Regions from separate parts of the Homo sapiens genome. Here regions 1, 2 and 4 are each reported to be linked to region 3. The links are microRNA targets in miRTarBase. Many come from high-throughput screens and were not tested one by one. Region 3 holds a microRNA gene; each other region holds the end of a gene's coding sequence.
The links. The annotated mature microRNA hsa-miR-4790-3p reads UGAAUGGUAAAGCGAUGUCACA and lies in region 3 at 2,640-2,661, shown strand. An mRNA with a match to its seed (bases 2 to 7 or 8) in the 3' UTR can be bound and repressed. Matches are read on the target gene's strand: a 7mer-m8 pairs with bases 2 to 8, a 7mer-A1 pairs with bases 2 to 7 and ends in A, and an 8mer does both.

Region 1: the mRNA of IPMK is a reported target of hsa-miR-4790-3p. Seed matches in the 3' UTR shown: 7mer-A1 at 2,354-2,360.
Region 2: miRTarBase lists MBD5 as a target of hsa-miR-4790-3p. Seed matches in the 3' UTR shown: 7mer-A1 at 2,440-2,446.
Region 4: miRTarBase lists KLHL36 as a target of hsa-miR-4790-3p. Seed matches in the 3' UTR shown: 7mer-A1 at 1,384-1,390.

The regions. Positions count from the first base shown.
Region 1 is chr10:58,192,408-58,196,603 of GRCh38, forward strand. IPMK (inositol polyphosphate multikinase) reads right to left here. Exons shown (of 6, transcript NM_152230.5): 6 at 1-4,196. The coding sequence ends at 3,669. Among named protein-coding and RNA genes, the nearest start is that of IPMK, 73 kb to the right of the region's middle.
Region 2 is chr2:148,512,253-148,516,475 of GRCh38, reverse strand. MBD5 (methyl-CpG binding domain protein 5) reads right to left here. Exons shown (of 14, transcript NM_001378120.1): 14 at 1-3,606. The coding sequence ends at 3,535. Among named protein-coding and RNA genes, the nearest start is that of EPC2, 130 kb to the left of the region's middle.
Region 3 is chr3:5,248,613-5,252,840 of GRCh38, reverse strand. MIR4790 (microRNA 4790) reads left to right here and starts at 2,586; the gene lies at 2,586-2,664.
Region 4 is chr16:84,661,922-84,665,921 of GRCh38, forward strand. It overlaps KLHL36 (kelch like family member 36), which reads left to right. Exons shown (of 5, transcript NM_024731.4): 5 at 1-4,000. The coding sequence ends at 212. Among named protein-coding and RNA genes, the nearest start is that of KLHL36, 15 kb to the left of the region's middle. RefSeq lists an enhancer at 1,684-1,903 and a silencer at 1,994-2,043.

The sequences.
Region 1 (4,196 bases), not on the chromosome of region 3:
GTGAAAAATTAAGGCTTTTTTATGCTATCTGTAACTAATACCCAAACTTAAATAGAGGTTACAATACTGTAAAATATTACTTCTAACTTCAACTATTGTTAGATGCTTCATTTCAACCCCACACTTATTATCTTATTTAGATGCCTATTTTTCTATATCTCTATTTTAATTAAGTCCCCAATCCCACCCCATCCAAAGAGAATGCTGAAAATGGTTAGGGCCTTATCCGTTTGGTTCACAGTTGTAATACTGGGGGCTAAAAATGCTTAATACATGGCATAAATCCAAGGAATATTTTTGAATGAACTAAGAAGCCTGGCCTCCAAAGGCAACCCTACTTGTTTTTCCAAAGCATTAACAGATAATTGTTACCTCTTTAAATAATCAGATTGACAATTATTAAAAAGGAATCGATGTTTCCTAGGCTATGAAAACATCAAAAACATGTAATAGAAAGGGTAACTGAGGGTACAAACATATCAAATCAAGACTAAAGGCACTGGAGAAAGAAGGTAAGCATTATAAACAATTTTTAAAGCAAAACAAGTTTTAAAGTATAAAATGCCAAACTACTAAGAGAAAATGTACTAAAATGACAATGCTTTACCATAGTGGACACAATTCCTGTAATTTCATAAACAGAATTCTTTCGTTGTTCTATCGTTTTCTTTCATCCTACATCTTCTATAATATTCCAACCCCTAGAAACAAATGTATTTTCAGTAGCATGAAACAAAAAATTGCAACTGAAGTATCTGTGGAAATTCCTTTTTCTTAAATGATGTTATAAATTTGATACATAGACTTGATAGACATAAGAACATCATCTTGGAAATCATAAAATACTAAATTATGCTCAATCAAAATACAGACGAAGGTTCTTCAGTTAAACAGTTTAGAGCCCCATAAGAGCAAACTGTAGTGTAAAGAGGAAAAGTAAGTACAATCTTTCCAGACACACAACTAATAATGAATACTGAGTTGAAATACCACAAGCTCCACATTAGAGCCATTTAATATACACATTTCCATAACTGTTTCTTGAAAAACTATTTAGATAAAATATTTAGCATTTATCATTGATTTTAATTTATTTGAATCTATGCAATGTCTATCCATATTAAAATATCAATTAATGTAAATATTATAAAACTATTATACAATTTAAATTTTTATTAGAGAAAGGTATTATTCACATCCACAATTTCTTAAAGTCCTTTTTAAATGAGTGTATTCCATAAGAAATACACTAAAATCATTACTTATGTTTCATAGGGGAAAAAAAACTATGAGAATCCTATTAACCCAAACTATATCCGCATTATGCTTATTTCTTAAGCATTTACATGTTCAAATATACTTGGTGAATAGCGATCATTCATCCCCACAGTGGTAAATTTCAGCATAATATTAAGTGACCGAGAGAGACTAAGATAGTCACATGTAGATTAGATAAACAGATACTTATTCTGTTATACCTAAGCCTACTTATAAAGCAACATAAAATGAGCATTGGATAACAATGATAACAAATGTAAACAAACAGAATTAAATGTTAATCCCTTCCCTGAAAAACAACAGATAAAAGGGCTTCTTGCTTTATTAAAAACAAAACATGATCTATTGTATCAAAAAGGTAAGACATTGATTTTACAAAATTGTATTTCCAAATGCAGATAAAAAAATCTTGAACATTAAGATTTTATTGAGCTAAAATGTGCAAAAAATCTGACAATACTTAAGTTTATTAAATTCATTGTACATAGGTTGATATCATCCCATACAAAAAAAGCCTCAGTATCTTGTTAAGATTCAAAATAGTGTTTAATTATCTGAGCTTAAGATTTATTGAACCACTATCCAAATAACAACAAAATCCATATTGTAAAAGAAAAAAGTAAAACTAAAAATTCTGATTATTATGACTTGAAATTCATTCCCGTTAAAACATAAAACTATAGCCAATATCCATTCAAAAAGTGAAGAAAAATTGGAAGTCCCTATGATAAATACACCAATTCTAAATAAAAAATTAAAATCAAATTTTGCTATTACAAAATGAACATGATCTTTTAAATTATTCAGGTTTAATAGATTTACTAAGGATAGAGTTCATAGAGCATTTAGTTGGTACTTCTGTTTGGACTCAGGTATTTGCAAAGTGCCCTCAGAGAAGGCTGAGAAGGTAAAATAAACATAAAATTGTGATAATTTTCTCCACACCACAATAAAGGTGCTCGGATTTAAAAATTCAATTTGTAACTCCAGAAGAAAAAGAGGAGAAAGAATTTACAACCCCAAAATATTTTCCAGGAATATGACAAAACTGATAACTACCTAGAAATGTTATTAGTGAATGGAAGTGCAAGTAATGGCAGCATTAACATCAAATGTATTTGAAGACTCAAAGTTTTAAATGTTTTAAATGACAAATAACTAGTTGATTTTTTTTTAAGGTGGTGGGTGTGAAACAAAGATAATACAAATCTAATTTTTCCAGGAACTGTAGCACTGCCCCTGTCCCCATGAAATTAAGTTACAATTTCACTGGTCAACATAATATAAAACTGTTTTGAGGAAGAGTGAAATAGAAGCATGAATATAGATACGCACCAAACCCTATATTACGGACTAATTTACACACAGTATTTTTGATAACAACCTAATTAGATATTGTCTTTCATTGCTTACTATAATTCTGAGAAACTGTTTTTAACAACATACATTTACACTACCACTTAACTAAATGGGGACATATAAATACATAAATTTTTAAAGAAAAAAATTCAAGTTATTTAGAGGAGAAATAAAACTTCAATTATTTACTTTTTTGAAGCTGCATTTAGATACAAAGGTATATGGTTTATGATACTTTCACAATGTAATAAATTTATATTCCAATTTTCTCATGAATGAAAGATTGTAAAGGAAAATATTTTGTTCCTTGAAAATAATATCTCTCTTCCCCTAACCCCAGTAAGGACAATTAGTGTGCCCTTAATTTCAAGACTTTGTTGTTGTCATCCACATCAATTGTCTTTTTCATGAAGTATAATATTTTGAGAGAGAGATGTAAAAATTAAAGAGAAAACCTGCTTTTGGAATGCAACAATTCTAAATCATTTCACTAAGGAGCACCCTTTGATATGCTGGTCTGAACTTTTAATATAAAACCTAAACAGTACTTATTTCTGAAGTAGAATTTTCTCCAGTTTTAGTAACTTCATACATAGCAATACTAAGGACATCAACCTGTGCTTTCGAGATTTTGGTAGGTGTTCTAATAATGTAATATTTTAGATATGGCTCATTGTCAAGGCTGGGTGGACAGAGATTTCATGAATTGGCTACAGAAAGCTAACTAAACTCTTAATGACTGAATAATGGTTTGCATTTTGCTTGAGCCAAAAAAGATGTTTAAGCCATGTACCACCACATTCCCTGCTTAACATTCCTAAGTTTCTTTATTCTTCATAGTTTTCTAATGAACAAATAGTTAGTTTTCCTGAGTAAGATTATAAAAAAGTTAACCATTCTTCCAAAAGTATAAAGACAAATAAAATGTCGACTCATAATACAAATTTTTTACATAGCATTAAAGGTGCAGATATTGACTGCCCCTCTTCATTATGATTGGCCCACCCCTTAAAAAGACTGCAACAGAGGATTCAATTGTCTAAAATACTTCGAAGTACAGAAATTAAATGCTTTAGCCCATAAACATATCCCTCATCTATTGTGTTGCTAGGGAACACATGAGCAAAATCTATCATTCGCACTTCTACTTCAGCAATCTCTTGGCAACCAGTGGGAAGATGGTAGAAAACTTTTTCCAGTTGGGAAAGTACATTTCCATTTAAATGTTCCTGTGACATGCTTTTCCACCCATTGTCTTGCTCCAGATTTTCAACTTTCAATGAAGTCTGACTGTGATGCTTTTTTGTATATATTTTCCTGTGACGCGCATACATCTTGGACAAGCTTTTGCCCACTGAAGACTCTATTTTTCCATTAGCTGTGGAACTTAACACATGAAAGTTATTATTGTACTCTAGTACTTCTGTGTCTGACAGTTGTCCTTTGGACAAAAACTTTTCTGCCAAAGTTCTGTCATTCAATTTTGTAGTGGTTGGCTGAGATGAACCTTCATAAACAAAGAGTAATGAACTTGCGTAAAAATTAAGCTGCTTCTGGTT
Region 2 (4,223 bases), not on the chromosome of region 3:
TCCCCCAAATGAATCAATGCACAACTCATTTGATATACTACATTGAAAAGTCTTGAGTCTTGCATTACACCATTCGGGCATAAATGGGCAAAGTAAATAAGATATCCAATTTTCAGCAAGGTCTAGTATTTTGTCTTTCTTTTCAGAAAGAGCAATGCCACCAACATCTTAAGCATCTTAGATTTTAAAATCTTAATGCATATATGCTTGTGACTTGCAAGGGAACACTGCAAACTGCATGGAAGATTACCAAAGTTAACAACAATGTGCTATCATGGTCTAAAATGAAACATGAGTCACCTCGTAGGATATAAGAATCTTCCTAAAACTTACAGAAAGTGAAATAACTAACTGCCCTTTTCTCTTCCTGCAATTCTGCAGTGTTACGTTCAAATAAGAAGGCTGTGTTTACTTAAAAAACAGGCATAGCAAAAACTCAAAGTCAGGGTCCAAATAAAAGACTAAAAGTGGCCCATGATATCACAAGGGATGAATGTTCTTAAAACATTTTCATTCATAATGGCACTGAAAAGTACAAGCCAAAAATGTTCCTTTAAATAAATAAAAACCCTGGTTTGCTTTTAATGCTACAAACAAGACAAATCACACAAAAGCTGCTCAGTTAATTTTCACTCATTTGAAATAATTTTTAAAACCTTCTTAGAGGTTTAGTTTATTCTCCTTGTGCTTCCTAGGACTGTTAAGGGACACAAAATAAAATTAGATTTCCTTTTCCAGCAGGAACTATTATGTTCTTTAAAGAAGAAAAAATTTTTCATCTGTTTCCATTCTTGGATTTGTTTCTTAAAAAGTTTATTTTAGGGAATAAAAATTTTGGTAACATAGAAGGCCTAGCCTTCATTTAAAAAAATGAATTGGCTTCAATACAAAGACAAAGAAATGGCTCTATGGGCAAAATTGAAGTGCGAGTGACCAATTTTTTAATTGTAAAGTAGGTGCAACATTTAAAAAAATGTTACAGCACTGTATGACCTGTAATGCTAACAATATTTACATTAACTGCTTACACAAAACCATATAACTCTAAGAGAGATGAAAAAAACCCACGTGGACTGAAACTACTACACCTAGCACCCATATCAAAGCCATAGCAACCAGTGAAATCATGGGCACAAACATACTTTACATGGTCTACTTATGTAAAGTATACAATGGGAGGGAAGCACAAACTGAATTAGCTCAAAATACCAAAAAGAAGGCTTGGTCAACACAAACTCAGCCTGAAGACAGAAAAGCAAAGGCTAAAAAATTTACATATCAACACATACACACATACAGACACACCCAGCATACAAACACACATGTCTGTCTGTCTGTGAATAAACAAAAATGTGTAGGAAAAAACAGTAGAAAAACAGGTTGGTGCAAAAAAAATGGACATTAATGGTTTAAACATACTAGCCACATCAACTTTTAACTTATAAACATGTGTCAACTAAACTACACAAAAGATTACTTCATGTGACTGCATGAAGGAACTGGGCAGGCAATCCCACCATTACAAGAGAGACAAAATGAACCTACCCCCAGAACGAAGGGTTCCTACTTTGAGGTCATGAAGCCCAGGGTAGCCAGTTGCATTCCATCAGGCTTGGGGGTAGGTTGAAAGTAGGAACAGAGGGACAGAGAGACACAGGAGACCTAGGGGAATAACTAAGAGCTGTTGCTATCAAAAGTGAGCCCAGGTGGCATGCTCTGTGCTGTGGCCCCAAGAAACCAACTTAAGGAATGACCTTGGTCTCCATTTTCCTGAGTTACTGGAACTCTGCTACATGACAGGACTGAGGAGTTTGGGTGGTGGGTGGGAGAGGAGCAGTAGGAGAGGTGGTGGGCAGTTTGAGGTGCTGAGCCTGCTATTGGAGAATCTCCTAGCAGCCTGAGTGGCAGACTGTTGTGTGAGCCCCAGGCTAGAGGACGAGGCAGTGCTCTCTAGGGGTTTAAGGGTTTGGGGCAGGGACTGGTGGTTCCAAGAATAAAGGGATAATAGATCCCTTCTTTTGACAATCCATCAACTGAAGTCAGGCTGGAAGCCTAAACTTTGCTTAACTGCCTGGAAGATAGGGTAATACCACCACCACAAAAATTGTGAGAAGAAGACGGAAAATTATGTTGTGCTACATTTCTTATTAATTACCTTGTACTTTACAATGGCTCACAGTTTTAGGTTTGTATACTTGTAATGTAGTATTTTCTCTCTACATTTGTTTCACATTTTTTCTTACTTAATATAATATAAATAATTTGGTTAATAGATTTAACCTGCACATTTTTGCCACATTAATATATATAAGAATCTGTTAATGGTATAAATAATTCTTTAAATAAAATAAATCTGATATGTTACACAATACTGATAAAAAAATTACCATTGCTAATAATTCCGTAAGCCACCTTAACTTCTGGGTTAAGTAATACTGATGAATGGATATGAAACTTGCTTTGATGATTCATATTTATATTTGCCACTACAAAAAAATGAATTATTATCAATCTTACCTCTGATAATGGTTGCAAAGTGGGGTTTTTGCCTCCATGTACGGAAATAGAAAGTTTTACCTTGTCAGATATCATTTGCAAAAAAACCCTCAATTCTGAGCACCAGCGGTGGTGCAGTCAGTATAAGCTATCTGCTTCAACAGGTGGCTATCAAATGTTAACTACAGAAATGGCTGAGTAAAATATTCCATCTAAGATTTTTTTTTATAAAACCTATTCTATTTTAAAACTTAGGTAAAAAAAATATGCAACAAATGGTTGCAGTTTCTGAATTCTTAATTTAGACCTGTGAGCCCTCATCCCTTTAGAAATCTGCAAAGTTGCAATTTCCTAGACACCCGAAATTGAGTCCAGTGCTTCCAGGCAAGGTTCATTCCAAACAGACAATATAAATGGACACTCAGTGGTGTGCAGTGTATGTCATAATTCAGATATTACATCATCATGCCTTTTCTCTGCTGTTAAATACAAAAACAGCATCTTTTACATTATCATAGAAAAGCATTTAGGTTGTATTTTTATTTATCACTTTACACTGGTAGTCTCTGGTAGGTGTACTCCATAGAAACCAAAGAATTTTGTACACTATTTCTTTGTACAATAAAAGATAAAGTGTGCATTAGGTACGCTTGTACATGACAATACTGTACAATATTTACATTTCTGATATCACCATGAAATTCTGTATTTTCTATATACAACATTGAAAATTCTTCAGAAACATTTGGACTATTTCTTATAATCACAATTTAGTATTATAGAAAAAGAGTTTCTCAGTAATCTCTTGACCATTGATCACTCTCATCACACAGAGACTTTGATTGGCTTTTCCAGCATTCATTATCCTTCCTGATCAAAAAAATTTTGTATCACTGTTTCTTTTAGCACCCTGTGGTGGTGGTAGCTATCTGCCATAGTCTAAATATTGATATAACTGTGGCTATATCAATACCTATATACAGATACATCTGTGCATGTTCCTTTAATAAACACTGCGCATTAGTGGAGTAGTCTCTGTTATCTGGAGATCTTCCTCCTCTTGGGTTTGGGGGGTCTCATTTGTCTGTCACCCTGTGGGATTTGGTGTACCTGGAAATAAAAAGGTAGAAAAAAAACAACAACAACAGAGGATGAAATCACAAACACCATAAAATTTCTGACAAAGGAGCAGGGTAGGGAATAGACTCTGGCTTTCACTTTCAATTACTGATATCCTGAGGCACTTCAAATGTTTACCAAGACCCCAGATGTCAGTGTGCCCACAGTCACTACAGAGAATGCAGAATGCTAGAAACTGATAAGCAGTGCAACACTCTGCGGGTGCCAATAGACAGTGGAAAACAAAGGATGAACTGGACAAAATCAAGTATGGGAAATGCAATGTGCAGTTGTTACCCCCATTGTCCATTTAAAACAAAAATAAAGCCTTCCCTGTCAGAGACCCTAGATCACCAATTTCACTACAGCCTGGAAGAATGAATAATTACACACCAAACATGCCCCTTTTTTTCCCTCACTTTGTTACCCTACTTATTTTACAATGACTAGGAAGGGTCACAAATTATAATAACATGCACACATAGCTCAGCCCAAGGATGTTTGTTCATAAGAAGAATCAAAATGGAAAAGAGAATACCACTATCATCTGTTGGCAGATCTGAAATTGTGTAGTCTGGGAGGAGCAGTTAATACAACTCACCTTTCTT
Region 3 (4,228 bases):
AAATTCATTTTAGTCTGCCTTTAGCCTTCTCTATCAGAGTAAAGACAGTTATGATTTATTCAGTAAATATATATTGCAGGTGTGCTATGTGTTAGGCCCTAGGTATACCGCAGAAAGCAGCACCAAGTCCCCGCGATCATGCATCTTAAGAGTCTGATGGGAAAGACAGAATAAACATGTACATAACACAAATAAGTAATTACGCTCAAAATGGTCGTAAGAGTAATAGTAAGTAACAGATGGAGGGGTCAAAGAAGTCCTCCTTAAGAAGGCAACGTTTGAACTGAGATCTGAGGAATGAGAATAAACAAAGGAAGCAAAGAATGGGAGGGACCTAGAGGGGAAGATGATAGTCTTTCTGGCCATGTATTGAGCTGCTCCATGCCAGCTCCTTTACAGGCTGTCTTAATCCCACTACTTTGCAAGGAAGGCATAATTTTCCCAGGAGGCAGCCGGGGAACAGAGAACTGAAGGAAATCACCCAAGCAAGTGGCAATGCTAACTGACACTGAGTCACATCAGCACTTGCCTTGTTTTGATAACACAAGGTCAGAGCAAGGGAATAAACCAGAACCACTAAGAACCAAAAAGACAAGCCCTCCAGGCCAGGGAATAGGCAGGCAGCCTCAAGGACTGACTTCAAATGACGCTCTTAAAGGGAATTCTAATATTAGCCACCATGTTCTGAATGATGGTCTCGTGCCAGGCACTGGGCCAAGGCCTTCCCAAGCATTGTTCATGTCCTCCTCATGATACCCCAGAAGGTAGATACTACATTCCCTGCTTTGTAGATGAAGAAAGGGCTGTAGAGCCATCCTTCCGCACACCGCCGTATCCTCTCCTCCATGTCACACACAGACTCAAGCAGAAGTCAAAATTTCAATCTGGAGCATGGATTCCAAAGGAAAGTTATGAGGGTGATTGCAAGACTTTAAACCATGACAAGGGAGCTTTGGTTAAACCAAATTTGAGACTGAGTGCAGTGGCTCAAGCCCATAATCCCAGCACTTTGGGAGGCCGAGGTGGGCAGATTGCTTGAGGCTGGGAGGTGGAGACCAGCCTGGCCAACATAGAAAAACCCCGTCTCTACTAAAAATACAAAAATTAGCCGGGCACGGTGGTAGGCACCTGTAGTCCCAGCTACTGGGGAGGCTGAGGCACGAGAATTGCTTGAACTCAGGAGGCGGAGGTTGCAGTGAGCTGAGATCGCACCACTGCACTCCAGCCTGAGCAACAGAGCGAGATTCTGTCTCAAAAAAAATAATTTTTTTTTAACCTAAAGAAGAGATGAGTGCAGCCAAGAATGAGGATAAGACGCTGTCTTCAAGTATTTGGACACTGGGCTAGCTTTGTTTTGTGTGAACTCAGAAAACAGAACTGGAGTCAGTGGGTGTTAGAGGGAGTCGGGGCAGTCAGTGCCCTACCCAGATCTTGCCTTACCAGGTATTTTCAATCCCAAGTTGCTGTAAGGACTGGCTGCAAACTTCTCACAGCTGCACCCTTTTCTCGAGGATCTACAATTAGGGATGTACCATTGGGAAAGCAATGAAATGTTCGCCGTCTCCCAGCCACTTTATTCAGCCTGAATCTTGGCACATACAATGACTGTCTGAAAATACCAGCCCCTCCATATACAGCTCGCTTCAATAATAACCAAAGAACCAAAGAATACAGTTTGAAGAAAAAATGAATTCCATGGTATTCTGCTTGTCCCCAGGCAGGCAGGCAGGCAGGCAGGCACAAAACAAACCGAAAGAGGACACACCTCCTCCAGCACCAGGAAACAGTTGTGGAGCTTCTCCCTGCCAATATTCATACATTTCCTGGGGCTTTCTCTTTACTTGGATAAATTCCAGGTCACTTATTTCTATTCTCTTTGCGCACCTCATATTTGCCTCCTCTATTTAATCAAGGAAAGTTGGAGGCAAAGTCCGGCTGTAGCAAAAAGCAGTCGTCAAAAACGTTACTCCAAGATCAAATATTTATGCCGCAGCAAGCAAGCTAACTGATTGTGATATCAAAGGATAATAAATCATTTGAAAAAAGAAAGAAAAAGCGATCAATGTGAATAGTATAATTTGCCTTTCATCAGGTGCTGTTGAGATCCTGATTTTTTTTGTTCATCTAACAATGATCATTTCTGATTTTCTTTTCTTTCATTTAAAAATACATTTTTTTCCCTCCCCAAGCCACTCAGATGTGCAGTGCTATTTGATGAGTTTTTGTGGAGGAGGCATCAAATTCCATATTCTGCACCCTGTGAAAGAGAACATGTGTAGTTTTCTGTAGCCTGTGTCTGGTTTTCAAAGGCTCACGCTGTTGTTACATGATTAAGAAATTGATTGAATGGCGGAGTGGGTTAAAGAAAAAAAAGAAAGAAATTGATTGAACTCAGAAAGACTGGAACATTTCAAAGAACAGCCGTGTTCAAATTACAGATTTCGATAAATGAGACTTATGAAAAATTAACTGCAGCCAACTGGCCGATATTTCTCATCCCCAGACACCCCTGCCTCTTCTCCCAAGCTCAAATGGGCAGCAGGTAAAACATTAAATGTAGATTACAAAAGAAAAATGATAATGAACAATGTGACATCGCTTTACCATTCATGTTCACTGAAAGGTAGATTTTAAAAACATGAATGGTAAAGCGATGTCACATTGTTCATTGTCATTTTTAAAGAGTACTGTCCATCTTGTCGCATTTTTAAAATGTTTTATGTGCTTCTATTATGAAATATTCCTGGAAAAATGTGCAAACAAGATCATACTGCGAAGACAAATCGCCCAGGATTTATCATCAGTCTATTCATTTCCAGTGAAAATCACCTGATTTTTTTTTTTTTTTTTTTTTTTGTTGATTCGGAGTCTCGCTGTCGCCCAGGCTGGAGTGCAGTGGCACGACCTCGGCTCACTGCAAGCTCCGCCTCCCGGGTTCCCGCCATTCTCCTGCCTCAGCCTCCCGAGTAGCTGGGACTACAGGCGCCCGCCACCGCGCCCGGCTAATTTTTTGTATTTTTAGTAGAGACGGGGTTTCGCCGTGTTAGCCAGGATGGTCTCGATCTCCTGACCTCGTGATCCGCCCGCCTCGGCCTCCCAAAGTGCTGGGATTACAGGCGTGAGCCTCCGCGCTCGGCCAGAAATAACCTGATTTTTACGGAATGCTCAGCACATATGGAATTTGGTATTCTCATTTTAAAAATGTACTTAATACAGTTATTGGGATATAATTCACATTCCATAGAATCCACCTATTTATTTTTCTGCCTTTTTTTTTTTTTTTTTTTTTCCTGAGACACAGTCTTGCTCTGTTGTCCACACTGGAGTACAGTGGCATGATCTCAGCTCACTACAACCTCTGCCTCCCAAGTTTAAGCGATTCTCGTGCCACAGCCTCCTGAGTAGCTGGAATTACAGGCATGCATCACTACACCTAGCTAATTGTTGTATTTTTAGTAGAAACGGGGTTTCATCATGTTGACCAGACTGGTCTTGAACAAGTGCTGGGATTACAGGAGTGAGCCACTGTTCCTGGCCTTTTTTTTTATTTATTTAATAATTTCAACTTTTATTTTAGATTCAGTGGGTATATGTGCAGGTCTGTCACATGGGAACACTGCATGATGCTGAGGTTTAGGGTACAGATGATTCTGTCACCCAGGCAGTGAGCACAGCACCCAATAGGCAATCCCTCAGCCCCTTCCCTCCCTCCTGCCTCCAGCACTGCCCAGTGGCTATTGCTCCCATGTTTATGTCTATGTGTACTCAATGTTTAACTTCCACTTATAAGTGAGAACATGTGATATTTGGTGTTCTGTTCTTGTGGTAATTTGCTTAACATAATGGCCTCCGGGTACATCCATGTTGCTGCAAAGGACATGATTTCTTTTTATGGCTACAAAGTATTCCATGAATCCACCCATTTAAACTGTATAATTCAATGGTTTGTAGCGTATTCAGAATTGATTCTTTTGTAACCAGTTCTGTTACTTTAAATTGGTCTTCTTCGGAGGAAAGTCTTGGAGAAAAATAAAAAAGAACTTTTAACTTCATGAACACTGAACTCAGGAAATCAATTCTAGTTTTGTTCCACCCCGTGGCTTCTTTCTTTGTAAAATTTTCTCTTTGCTTTTGGAAGAATCCATTCCACCAACTGAAGTTTTCTATGCCTAATGTCAGCACGTAAGTAATTGCATTAGGTTAAAGCTACACTGTCACTCCAGGAAGC
Region 4 (4,000 bases), not on the chromosome of region 3:
GCATCTACATCCTGGGCGGCTACAGCTGGGAGAACACTGCCTTCTCCAAGACCGTGCAGGTGTACGACCGCGAGGCCGACAAGTGGAGCAGGGGCGTCGACCTGCCCAAGGCCATCGCTGGCGGGTCCGCCTGTGTCTGCGCCCTGGAGCCACGGCCAGAGGACAAGAAGAAGAAAGGCAAAGGCAAGAGGCACCAGGACCGGGGCCAGTGACCCTAGCTGCGCCTCTTGGGACCATCCTCACCGTCACCTCCCAGGGCTCTGTAGACCAGCAGCAACTTCTTAGTATTCCGGAAACATTATGTACAACTTAGCAGCTTTTTTTACTTTTATGATTCTTGGTATTTCTATGATATCACAGTAACCAATTAAATACTATCTGTAACTTTACATATCTTGCTTGAATAACTAACCCTGGGCCCAGGCAGTGAGCAACCCCTTGTATCTTCACAGGTCTTTGCCCCGTGTTATGATTCCTCATGGGTCCTTGCTGACTGTCCCCCTGAGAGTAGCTGGCACGTGGGTAACACAGAAATTTCTGTAGTGAAGCTTGGGCCTCAAAGGGTTCTCTTAGGCCACCTAGTCCAAGCCTCCCCAAACCTGGCTGAACTTTTAAGAATACAGATGCGTGAGCCCCGCTCAGAATTATGGAATCCAAAACCACCAGGAACGGGGAGGAGGTGGTGCCCAGAAGCTGTATTTTAACTAGTTCTTGGAATTCTGGGTATTAGTCACATCTGGGAATCACTGGCAAGGTCCAGTGTGTTTGTTTTATAAATGAGTGCACAGAGACCACCCATGAGGGTGAGTGAGTGAGTGACCAGGGGCCACGCAGCTCGCTAGACTGTCAGATGAGACATGATGACTTCCCGCTGGGGAGCTGTTCTCCGTATCAGGTGAACGCTGTTTCTGAATAATTCCGTCTTTCCTCATTGGAAACCTTCTTGAATTCTAAAACGTTACAGGTAACCAAAAACGAAAAAAGGTATGAAGCTCTTTATACATATTTTTTTGTAATTTGTGCATTTTTTTCCTTTTTTTTTTTTCTGAACCCACTGTCTTTTATATTACTGATGTACTGAGCTCCCAAATCTGTTTATTTCTCAGGAAAGAAAAAGTGAGTGCTATGGAATTTGCCATCGTTCTCTGTGACTCTATCTTGAGGCGCTGTTGAAAGTTCCTGCACAGAGGAGCACATGTGGATCCCTGAGAAGGCAGTGGAGGGCTCCCTAACTCCCACGCCAGGTCCTGCCCCAGTTTTCTGCTTCTAAGTAGTTTCGTGCTGCTGGGCAAATTCTCGAACAAGTCCGTGTGTTCCCTCATCCACCCCGCTTAGCCACAGGATTAGATGGAATACCCTCCAGGCTCCTCCCGGGTGATAGGGCCATTCAGCCTCTGAGCTGTTCGTACCCGGATGGCATCCCCTTCAGGATGTGGAGCTGGCCTGCACTGACTCCTGCAAACAGTTCCTAAAGCAGGTGTCAGGGTCGCTTGCCCTTTAAGAGGGCTCTTAGCTGCCCGAGTGGATGAGAAACGTGCAGAACTATGGGAGGATAGGAGTGTGATGGGTTTTAAGCATGAGCCAAGGAAGGCATGAATGAGCTGTACCTCACCCAGCATCCGATGGCAGAGATCAGTAAACTTCAAGATGTGCTTCATCTTCAATCCTAGTCTAACACCAGTCTTCCTGCAGACAGTTCCGAGAGCAGGTCTCGATGTCACTTGCCCTTTAAGAGGGCTCTCAGCTGCTCGAGTGGATGAGGATCAATGTGTTAAGATTGATATTAGACTAGGAAAAAAATCTTAGTTAACTTTAATTTCCATTTCTTCTGCTTCTTTGCTGCCCCTCCTTTCCCTTCCCTTCAGGGTTTACTGTGGTTCTCACTGGTCTGTTTATGTAGCCATCCAGAAGAGATGAGAGCATTTTGGGGACTGAAAGCTTCAATAGCCAACTTACTGCCCTCTGTGGTTAGTGAGGAGGGCAGTCTGCATGTTCAGCTAGCTAGTTATTTGCATGTGAAGTCCCTGGAGGCTTACAAACTGTTGAGAGGTTCTGCGAGGCATACAAACAAACAGACCAAAAGGCTGGAAACTCTGCTTGGAGCTCTGCAGCATTCCGGTGTATGAAAGGTTCCGAGAAGTCTCAACCCAGCATTTCCAAACTTCTTTGAGCCTAAAAGTCGTTTGTCTCATACCTAGTCCCAGACCCCCACAAAACATGTTTTGCAGAACTTCTGCCAACTTTGGGATAGCTTACCCCCTTCCTATTCGGGAAAGGTTTTATTGCTTGTAGACCCCTCAGAAGGCAGGGTAGGGTGTACGTGGGCTGTTCTCCCCATCTCAGCCTGGGTCATGAACAAACGGGCAGTTGTTTGGCCTGAATCTCGGGGCAAGTTGGGGAGAGCACATAGAAAGACTCTGTGAGTGATTTGGGGAGTGGGATAGCTTTGACCTTGGAGAGAGGAGAGCCATTGGTTTTCAGCCTAAGCCAGCTCTTTTATGTTTTGCTTCTGGGACTTGTCCCTGGAAATGTGTGAGCTTCTGGCCTCTATTCTGATTTTCTTGTGCCTCATGAGTTACATACGACGTCCTGCGCTTCATATTTTGTGGTGTCTCTCCTGATACTATGAAGGTGGTTTGTAATTGACATGGCTTTGACCCTAATATTACTAAGGTTGGGACCACCCTTTTAAAGGGAGGATAAACAAGTTTCATCTTGTGGGTCAACTTCTAATATTTGATGGTGGCTACACTGTGACAAGAAAGGTTTTTGAGCTTGTTGGGGTCAGTGGATGGGCACAAGGGCACCCAGTGGTGGTGCCCGGGCCAGGTTTTTGTTACTTGTCTTTTTAAGTTGAAAATTCACCCTACTGTGCATGAAAATGGAACTGAAAATGGAAGAGACCATGCCTGGGCAACATGGCAAAACCCCATCTCTACAAAAAAATTACAAAAGATTAGCCAGGGATGGTGGGGCATGCAGTAGTCCCAGCTGCTTAGGAGGCTGAGGTGGGAGAATCACCTGAGCCTGGGAGGTTGAGGCTGCAGTGAGCTATGACCACACCACTGCACTCTAACCTGGGTGACGGAGTGAGACCCTGTCTCAAAAGAATAAAATGTTTTTTAACTCAGATGGGCAGAGTTTGGGCTGTGCTTATGCAGTGGCCATTTGAACCGCACAGTCACGAATGTGGGGTTTTAAACTAGAGTGATGAAGGCACAGGTGCTTGCAGGCTGCCATTTTGAGAGGGAAACAGCCACACATGTCATCATGTTAAACTTTCAGTGTTTCAAGCTATTCTGCTTGAATTTTGAAGACACCTGGATCTTTTTTTTTTTTTAACATTTCAAAATAAGCATGGCAGGCTTCTATTGAGGTTTGGACTTCTCTCATTTCTAAAGAATTAGAGTTGTAACTTCATATTAGTTGTAAGTTTGGGGTTTGGTCCTCACCCAAGTTGGAAAGCTGTTTGCTTAAGACATAGATGTATTATAATAATAGAAGGGAGGGAGTAGAAAGCTGATGAACCCTTGTTACTTATAGCAAACTTCCTGCTGTTTTAAATGCACAGAGATTATTTTATCAACTGTGGTTAGCACGCAATTGGTATTTTTATTGTTCTGCCATTTTATTGAGGCTATCAAGTGGGACTTCAGACCTGGCTCTGAGCAGGACCACACGTGTGTATTTATATTGAGTGCCCTCACTCATGATAAGGTGACTTCATGGAGACCCAGAAACTCACCCTAAGGGGTGTTCACCTTTGAGGTGGGCATCCAGATGCTGAGGGGAAGTGGGGTCCATCCTCTGAGGTCCAGGGGCCTACTTTGTGAGCTCAGTTGTGTTCACCTGTGGTTCAGTGTACCTCGGCCCCTAAGCCAAGTGATCGTTCAGTGACTTGCAGCAATGTGGGAAGTGAGGGGACCCCTGCCACACCCCCCACCACCCCCTGTAGAGTCACTGACCTTCATCCTTCACCCTGGTCCTCCATGGTGCAGCA